Linked DNA regions of Homo sapiens. The protein of the gene in region 2 purifies or fractionates together with the protein of the main gene of each other region. This does not show direct contact. Each region holds a gene or a part of one and is shown on either strand. Other genes may lie near its edges.

Region 1 (4,842 bases), on a different chromosome or scaffold from region 2:
ACCAACACGGTGAAACCCCGTCTCTACTAAAAATACAAAAATTAGCCGGGCGTGGTGGTGCGTACCTGTAATTCCAGCTACTCAGGAGGCTGAGGCTGGAGAATCGCTTGAACCCAGGAGGCGGAGGTTGCAGTGAGCCAAGATCTTGCCACTGCACTCCAGCCTGGGTGACGGAGCGAGACTCTATCTAAAAAAAAAAAAAAAAAAAAAAAAAAAAAAAAAGTATGTCCAGGCAAATAAGACCTTCAGCAAATAGAGATGACACAGGCATATTCCACTAGCAACCCAGGGTGGCTGGCTGCCATTTGGGGTATCACATCTTAGAGAACATAAGGGATGCTCAGTCCAACTACAGCCACTAAGGCATCCAAACTAGTGCTGATTTTAAAGGATGGTTGAATATGGCAACCTGACTATATAACCCTATTAGCCTTAAGGGCATTCCAGCTTCTGGCGGTTCTGCGATTGTACTTGGCACTTTCTCCAAGGGTGCAGGAACAAGAGGGGGCTCTTATCCTTTCACTCGCTGAGTATGACACACCGGTGAGCAGAAAAGAAAGTATACCCTAAAACAAACTAGGACTAGAACACCTCCTTGCCCACCTTTGTCTCTGAACCCACATGTTGTCTCCTATCCTGGGTATGAAATGTCCAGAAGAAGGCTAGTCCCTCCATTTGGTCACGGGCCCATCCCCTCTCGTCTACCAAATGACATCATTCCCAGACTTTTCTTTCTCTCCTGTATCCATTTTCCCTTTTGACTAGATCATTCCCAACAGCATACAAACACGTTATTTCTTTTATCTTAAAAAATAAAAACACGAAACACCTCTCTTAATTCCTTCATTTTCCCCCTTTTAGTTACCACTGCATCACTCTCCCTCCCTGTACTGCAGGAACACCACACGACTTTCTGTGCCAATGGAAATGTTCAATATTTGCACTGCCTAGTAGAGCAGCCACTGGCCGTATGTGGCTATCAGACACTTGAAATGAATGTGGCTAGTGAGGTTAAGGAACTGATTTTCAGTTCTTTTCTTTTGAGACAGAGTCTTGCTGTGTCGCCCAGGCTGGAGTGCAGTGGCGCGATCTTGGCTCACGCCAAGCTCCATCTCCCAGGTTCACGCCATTCTCCTGCCCCGGGCTCCCAAATAGCTGGGACTACAGGCGCCTGCCACCACGCCTGGCTAATTTTTTTTTTGTATTTTTAGTAGAGATCGGGTTTCACCATGTTAGCCAGGATGGTCTCGATCTCCTGACCTCGTGATCTGCCCACCTCAGCCTCCCAAAGTGCTAGGATTACAGACGTGAGCCACCGCGCCCGGCCTTTAGTTTTATTTCATTAATTTAAATTTAAATACCTACACGTGGCTAGTGGCTGCTATAAGGGACAGCACAAGTCTATACTCACTGACTCCTCTTCTCTCCTCCCATTCTCTCTGAATTTACTCCAGGTCTTCGCTCTCATTCTTACTGAAATGGCTCTCATCAAGGTCACAAATGACATCCACACTGCCAGATCTAATGGTTGAATTCTCAGTCCTCCTACCATTGGAGCCACCCACAGCTTTGGACACAGCTAATTGCTCTTTTCTCCCTGAAACACTTACTTCCCTTGGCCTCCAGGACACAGCCCTCTTCCAGTTCTCCCACCTCCATGCTGGTTCTTCCTCATCTCTTCAAGCTCTACACACAGCAACAGCTCCAGGACTCAATGTGCCTCCTCTTCTTATCCTCACTCATCCCTGGAAGAGCTCATCCACGCTCATGTTTTTAGACACGACCTACAGGCTGCTGGCTCCCAAATACGCATCTCCTGCCCTAACTGCTCCTCAAACTCCAATTATATATCCAATTCTTCACCTGACATCACCGCCTGATGTCTAACAAGCATCTCAAACTTAACACATCTATGTTTAAGACACGAACATCAACTCCTGACTTCCCCCACACACCTGTTCTACCCGGTGGTTGTTCCTATCTTGGCTGAAGGCAATTCCATCTTTCCTATTGTTCAGGCAAAAAACCTTACCGTTTTCTTTAACTCTCATATCTACTCTATCAACTGGCTCTGCTCTGAAAGTGATCTAGAATCTGACCAAATGATCTAGGTGACCACATCTCCTTATTTTTGCTCCTCCTACCATCTCTCAGTTTACTGTGACAGCATCCTAACTGGTCTCCCTGCTTCTGCCTGCCCTCTATAGCCCATCCTCAGCACAGCAACCTGACTGACCCTGTTAGCAAACCTACCTTGGATCCTGACCCTCCTCTGCTCAACATCTCCAGTGGGTCCACCTTACTGAGTAAATGGCAAAGTGTCTAATCTAACCTTTAAGACCCTGTAAGATCTGACTCCCCGTGGGCCCTCTCGGACCTCATCCCCTACTGTTCTCCTCCTTGTTCACTCCACTCTGGCCACCCTGATGTCCTTGCTGTTCTTCAATACAACAGGGGAGCTCCTGCCTCAGGGCCTTTGCATCTGCTGCCCCTGCTGCCTAGAATGGCTCCACCCCCAGACATGTCCATGCCTTGTTCCCTTCCGGTCTTTACTCAAATGCCCCCTTCTCGGTCACTCTACCTAATACTGCATCCCTCCCATTCCCATCCCCACTTCCTATCTCCTCATTTATTATTTTTCATTAGCCCCATGAGGACAGGGAATTTTGTTTATTTGGCTTCCTACTAATATCCCAGCACCTGGAACTGTATTTGTTGAATGAACGAGTGAATCCCCAGGACACGGATGTGTCTCTAAGCAGGAGATTGGGTCACATCTGGATCATCACGCAAGCCCTTATGCAGGCCCCTAACAGAAAGCCAAAGAGACCTGAGGTCGATCATGTCCAGGTCCCAGGGTGACAGACTGAGGGCAGTGTGCGACAGTTTGGGGGATACTCTGAGGTAGGCAGAAGGTGGAACCCACCATGCTGATATGAAGAGCAAGGTTCTCTGTGTCTGTCTGTTCATCCTGCTCCGAGGAATCTGTCTCTTCCATTTGTTGCATCTCCAGTTCAGACGGAAGAAGAGCTGTCAGGTAGGGGATGGTGAAAGGTCTGGCAGCAATCACTGGCGAATTGGAAGAGAGGCATGAGTCCACTGTCACAGAGACCTCGCAGCTGGCTTAGAGTCCTAGAGCCTCACAACAAATCAGTGAGCAGCACCAGAAGATAATACTAGCTAACTCGCTCCAAGTACTTACACAACAGGCCAGGCAATGTTCTACGGGCTTTACTCATGTTATCTTTCATCCTTGCTCCCATCCTATTAAGTACGATTAGGCACAGAGAGGTGAAATGACTTTCCCAAGCATGCTAAAAATGGCAGAATGGGATTCTAACTCAAGCAGCATGACTTCAGAATCTACTTTTTGCCAAGTACAACTGAGATAAGATGGAAATGAGGCTATAGATAGAATCCTAGCAACACATAAGTTTTGAGATCCTGCACCCAAGGTCAGTTAAACCCCTCTAAGCTTCACTTCCAGAGCAGGAATATTGATTCTTTTACCCTGAAGGACTCAAGTCCAAAGGCTGGATTTGAGCACTCTGCATATATGCATGTCCACTGAGCTGTAAGACACTCTGGTCAATGAGAGTTCTAGCTCTTCCAAAAAGCAATGAGGATGAGAGGAAGAAATTGAATAAAAAATAACATTAAAAGAAAGAAGGCCGGGTGTGGTGGCTCATGCCCATAATCCTAGCACTGTGGGAGGCTGAGGCAGGAGGACTGGTTGAGCCCAGGAGTTTGAGACCAGCCTGGGCAACATGGTGAAATCCCGTCTCTAGGAAAAATAAAATTAGCCAGGTATAATAGTGCATGCCTGTAGTCCCAGCTACTAGGGAGGCTGAGGTGGGAGACTCATTTGAGTCCAGGAGGTCCAGGCTGCAGTGAGCTGTTTGTGCCACTGTACTCAAGACTGGGCGACAAAGTGAGATCCTGTCTCAAAACAGAAAAAGAAAAAGTCTCTGTGTGTACTTCTATGGTAGAATGTGACTGTTAGAAAATACTCTAGAATTGGCTGGGTGTGGTGGCTCATGCCTATAATCCCAGCACTTTGGGAGGCTGAGGCAGGCAGATCACTTGAGCTCAGGAGTTCAAGACCAACCTGGCCAACTGGGTGAAACCCCGTCTCTACTAAAAATACAAAAAATTAGCTGGGTGTGGTGGCTCCTGCCTGTAGTCCCAGCTACTTGCTGAAGCAGAAGAATCGCTGGAACCCGGGAGGCGGAGGTTGCAGTGAGCAGAGATTGCGCCACTGTATTCCAGGCTGGATGACAAAGCAAGACTCTGTCTCAAAAAAACCCACAAAAACTCCAGAATTATTTTTGCTGTGGGTCAGATGTGGGGTCCTGCAGTAAGAGCTAGGTTTGAATGATGTCTACTAGCCATGTTCCTTGAGGAAGTGACTTCATTTCTCTTCTCTTGTGCCTCATTGAAGGGTTCCTATGAAGGTAGTGATATATCAGTTCCCAACTCAGAGGCTCACAAGAGGATTTAATGAGATAATGTATGGGAAATGATGAGCACAGTATCTGGCACTTAACAACCGGCAGCTGCTGTTATTCCAGAGCCAGGCACACAGCGGGCGTTCCACAGGAGCTTGCTGAATGAATGAATCACCCAAACCAACCTCCCTCACTCACATTTGTAAAAACTGAGGTCTTTGGAAATGAAGTAGCTTGGTCAACATGGCCAAATAGTGCTGAGATGCCAAGTTAAATGAGGTGGGACCTACGAGGGAACATCACGATGGGCAACTGGCCCCTGATGCCAATGTTCTTCTACTACCTGGGCTGCCACCAAGTGTCTCTGATGCCTAGGCCTAGGCTACCCTCAAGG
Region 2 (4,842 bases):
CAGCCGAATGGAGAGGATGAGGGGGAGGCAAGAATGAGACTAGAAATAGAAAGTTGTGGGAATACAAAGCAAGCTTCCTGGCCAGATTAAAAAAAAAAAAAGAAAAGAAAAGAAAAGATGACTGAGATCATAAAACTGTCCCAGGAGGAAGATAGAACAGGGATGGGCCCACTCCGTCTGATGTATTCTCACTGCGCCTTACTGGCAACCCTTCCAGAAGCTGGTAGTAATAACAAGGGGCACCTATTCTAGACTTAGATCTGCTCTGCAAGGAAGATGCTGGTGAAAAAGAAATGAATGGACACTTGGGAAGAACCACACACATCATTTTCGAGCCCTGAATGGCCAGAAGGGAATGCTAAGTCTAATGTAGACACAACCTTAGAGTTCGGGCAGAGCTCTTGCAGATGTACACTAAGCCGATTCAGAGAAAGATAGGCTGGAGGCTCGTGACTTGAGAGTCTGGAAGATAAGACAACTTAAGCACTGGGAGACTCTTAGAAACAGGCTTTATTAGGAAATCTGCAAATTATGCCAAGATTGAAGGAAGAAAGATACCTAAAGAGGCAACATGTCTTACATGGGGGAATGGGAGGACTTTATAGGGAGCTCAGATTTTTAAAAAATGGGGTATATTTAGGCATTCAATAGCATACAGTGAAAAAACTGAAGAAAAAAGAAAACATAATCAAGAGAAAAATAAACATGTCAAAAGAAAAATAAGCATATCATAAAAGCTGAATCTCAGAATGAATGAAAATATTTTAGAAGAAAAAGGAATTTTTAACTTCCATTCAGATCATATCTGAAAGGAAAGCTAACAAATGTTAGGGAAAGCACAGCAATATGATCCCTATCTACTCTATTGACGGGATAATCATTCGATGGCCAAGAGAAGATAAGGCGTTGGAATGAAAGAACTTCAGTTCCAGCTTGGCCAAGAGAATTTAAGAGCATCTGTGATTAACCCAGGCCAAGTGCCCTAGCCCAGGTGTATATCTTGGTGAGTCAAGGGGTTTGGTGTCCATGAGTCACCCTCCATCCCTGCTCTCTGAGGGCCTGGGATGGGAGAGCCACCAAAACGGCTGGGGGCGGGGGAGGAGCACTAGCTGTTGAGACGGGAAGTCTGAAGTCAGGAAGGCTAGAGATATTCCCTAGGAAAAGGAATATACTACAGGCAACATTGTGTTGCGGGCTGCAGCTATATACACACACACACACACACACAGATAGGGGACAAACTAGTTAGGATTGCTTTTTTTTTTTTTTTTTTGAGACGGAGTCTGGCTGTGGCCCGGGCTGGAGTGCAGTGGCGCGATCTCTCACTGCAAGCTCCGTCTCCCGGGTTCACGCCATTCTCCTGCCTCAGCCTCCCAGGATTGCTTTCATAGAACGTGCTACAGCATTCTTTTTTCATCTTCTCCCCAATCCATTCTCCCCTCACCAGCTGTCAAGCCCCTTCCTACCGGCCTAGTCCATTTCACATGCCTTATCTTTTTTTTTTTTTTTTTTTTTTTTTTTTGAGACGGAGTCTCGCTCTGTCGCCCAGGCTGGAGTCCAGTGGCGCGAGGTCGGCTCACTGCAAGCTCCACCTCCTGGGTTCTGGCCATTCTTCTGCCTCAGCCTCCCGAGTAGCTGGGACTACAGGCGCCCGCTGCCACGCCCGGCTAATTTTTTGTATTTTTAGTAGAGACAGGGTTTCACCGTGTTAGCCAGGATGGTCTCGATCTCCTGACCTCGTGATCCGCCTGCCTCGGCCTCCCAACACATGCCTTATCTTGCCAGTGTCATTGCCAAGCTACGTTTGTATGCTTACAAATCTGTAGATTACTGGATCTCAATGTGTGGGCCTCTGACCAGTAGCACTGTCATCACCTTTGAGCTTTTTAGAAACACAAATTCTAGCAAAATCTCTGGTGAAGAAACCCAGCCAGAGATGTGTGCTTTAATAAGCTAAGTGATTGCTAAGCAATGTAAGTTTAAGAACCATGGTTTCAAAAGACTGGGCACATGTGGTAACCTATGAGAACTCAGGCATAGCATCTTAATCTTTTCACTATTGTGTCCCCCGCCTTTTTTTTTTTAATCACAATTTCTCTGAAAGATACTTTACGTAAGCAACCCATAATGTAACTTAAATATCTTGGTAAATTCAAAGTTCAAGCTATATAACCGTCATACCTACTGAACTGCTGATGGGTTAGCACCAAACCTTCCAGCCTGATGGGAAATCTCACATCACAGCTTCCAACCATGTTCTGAATTTTAAAATCGAGGAATCTGGCAGGGAACCCAAGCTTCTGCACCACACGAGCATATTTTCTTGCTGCAAGTCGAGACTGCTCTTCACTGGGGAGGGGCAAATATGTTTAAAGATGTCTTAATCGCTACATCCTCTCAACTACTGGTGTTGTATTGGATTGTTACCATTTGTACCACGTTTATCTTTCAATGTATACTATGAAGCTGTAGGCTTTGTGAGGAGGACTTACTTCCCATACTTTCGTCCCTAGCACCTTATAAAAGGTCTTGTAAAATTGTACAGCTGTTGAACAGAATCATAAATTTTTGTCTTCATTTGTCACCTTTCATATATGAAGTACTTTTACTTTTACTTGGGTGTTATTTGCTAAAACGATTCCAAGGATTCGCAAAGTGTGTCCCCAGACCAGCAGCTTCACCTGGGAACTTGTTAGAAATGCAAAGTCCCAGGTTCCACCTCAGACATGCAGAAACTCTGGGGGTGGGGCCGAGCAATCTGTCTTTTAACAAGCCCTCTAGGTAACTGTGCTGCTCACTGCAGTTTGGGAACCATTCATCCAGTCTCAAAGTATGTCCCATTTAGAAGAGAACAATGGCTGGGCACAGTGGCTCACGCCTGTAATCCCAGCACTTTGGGAGGCTGAGGCAGGCAGCTCACCTGAGGACAGTAGCTCGAGACCGGCCTGGCCAACATGATGAAACGCTGTCTCTACTAAAAATACAAAAAAATTAGCTGGACATGGTGGCGGGCACCTGTAATCCCAGCTACTCAGGAGGCTGAGGCAGGAGAATCACTTGAACCTGGGAGGCAGAGGTTGCAGTGAGCTGAGATCGCGCCATTGCACTCCAGCCTAGGCAACAAGAGTGAAACTCCGTCTCAAAAAAAAAAAAAAAAAAAAAAAGAAAACAACAAGAAAAAATAAGGACACATGCATACAAAAAAAAATCGCATATAAGGAGGTAAGATATGTGCTGATTGAGTGGCACAGACAAGGTATCAGTTCTTGAGTCTTTATTGGACACACTGTCCAAAACAACCACATGAAAATACCTCAAAACCCCCCTTGTTTTGCTCGGCTTTCTCACCCAATCTTCAATTCAATTCAAACTCAACACAAGAAGGACAGGAATTTGTCCTACTCTGTGGCTATGTCCTTTAAGTGTCTGTCCTGCTGCACCCCTAAATTCATAGCAGAGCCTGTGGAGTCCTGAGAGGTGAGGCTTCATTTCTCCTTAGGTATTTTTCAACTGTTAGTGACAAAACAAAACAGTAGGTAGCAACACCTGCAGGGTGAATCAGGTGAATTCCACCCCCCTCATGGGTTTGGCCCTATTTTTAGGCTGTAAATCAGAAACACCTGAAAGAAAAGCCAGTTTGAACTTGTTTGCCTGGACTAAAGCAAGTGTTTGATTCTCTTATCCAGATCCTTCACCAACACTGCCCCCTCTTGGGTATTCGTTACTACATACATGTGTCACCTCATTTAATGTTGATTCTCCTCACCCACTTTAAAAAAAAAAAAAAAAAAAAAAAAAGAGATTGGGTTTTTGCTCTGTTACCCAGGCTGGAGTGCAGTGGCATGATCATAGCTCACTGCAGCCTTGAACTTCTGGCCTTAAGTGATCCTCCTGCCTCAGCCTCCTAAGTAGCCTGCAGGGGCATGCACCACCACACCTGCCTAAATTTTTATAGAGACAGGGTCTTGCTGTCTTGCCCAGGCTGGGCTCAAACTCCAGGACTCAAGTGACCCTCCCAACCTCAGCCTCCCCAAGTACTGAGGTTACAGGTGTGAGCCACTGCACATGGCCATCTGTTGATCTGGTATCTACTCACTAGATTGACTACAGCTGCACAGCACTGCCCTTGGCTCTCTTCACCCACTTCTCACTCTTGAAATGTCCTTAGCAAGGCCATGTCCCCAGGTTAGCAGTAAAATAAACTGTTTCCATTTTGAACTACATTTTGCCTAACTAATCTATTACATTTCCCGTAATGTAAATAAGTTCAAATTTGTTCAAGTTTGCATAGTCCTGTAGTTTCTTGGGATATCAGCTGTGATATTCTAAGGACACAGAAGTTTCTATTGAAACAACTAATAGTTGAAAGTCTATATACATGTTCATTGTACAAACATTAGAAAGTAGTTTAAAAATCTTAAAATCTCACCCATACTGGTGTTAACTACCTAAATTTGATCTTCTGCACTTTTCCTACGCAAACACAGGTATCCCTCATACTCTTGCTGTTACAACAAAAGAGAATAGGTTTGGATAAAATGTGGAGATAATACTGGCACCTCTTATTAACTAAATTCTCACAACTCACTATCCAAAACTTCAAAACCAAATATATTTGGATAAAAAGTATCTCTTATTATCTGAACTCATTATCCAAACTTTCACTATCAGATTTTAGGAATAAATTCAGATAAGAAAAGACACTCATGAATGTGTGTAATATGTGTAACATGAGCATATTTTACAATGAAAGTTGGATAACAAACACCATTTAGCTGCTTACTTCTCCCTCTGCAATCCAACTTAATACAATGTGACCATCCTTTCAGCTCAGTATGTGTA

The links. The genes of interacting proteins can lie anywhere in the genome.
Region 1: the proteins of TBPL2 (region 2) and TAF8 purify together in Homo sapiens (co-immunoprecipitation; one large-scale study listed by IntAct). This does not show direct contact.

What each region holds. Positions count from the first base shown.
Region 1 is NC_000006.12:42,066,692-42,071,533, reverse strand, and holds part of TAF8 (transcription initiation factor TFIID subunit 8), read right to left. Parts: intron 3,070-4,842; coding exon 2,927-3,069; intron 188-2,926; coding exon of another isoform or gene 66-187; intron 1-65. UniProt on the Homo sapiens protein: The TFIID basal transcription factor complex plays a major role in the initiation of RNA polymerase II (Pol II)-dependent transcription.
Region 2 is NC_000014.9:55,426,626-55,431,467, forward strand, and holds part of TBPL2 (TATA box-binding protein-like 2), read right to left. Parts: intron 2,350-4,842; coding exon 2,182-2,349; intron 1-2,181. UniProt on the Homo sapiens protein: Transcription factor required in complex with TAF3 for the differentiation of myoblasts into myocytes. The complex replaces TFIID at specific promoters at an early stage in the differentiation process.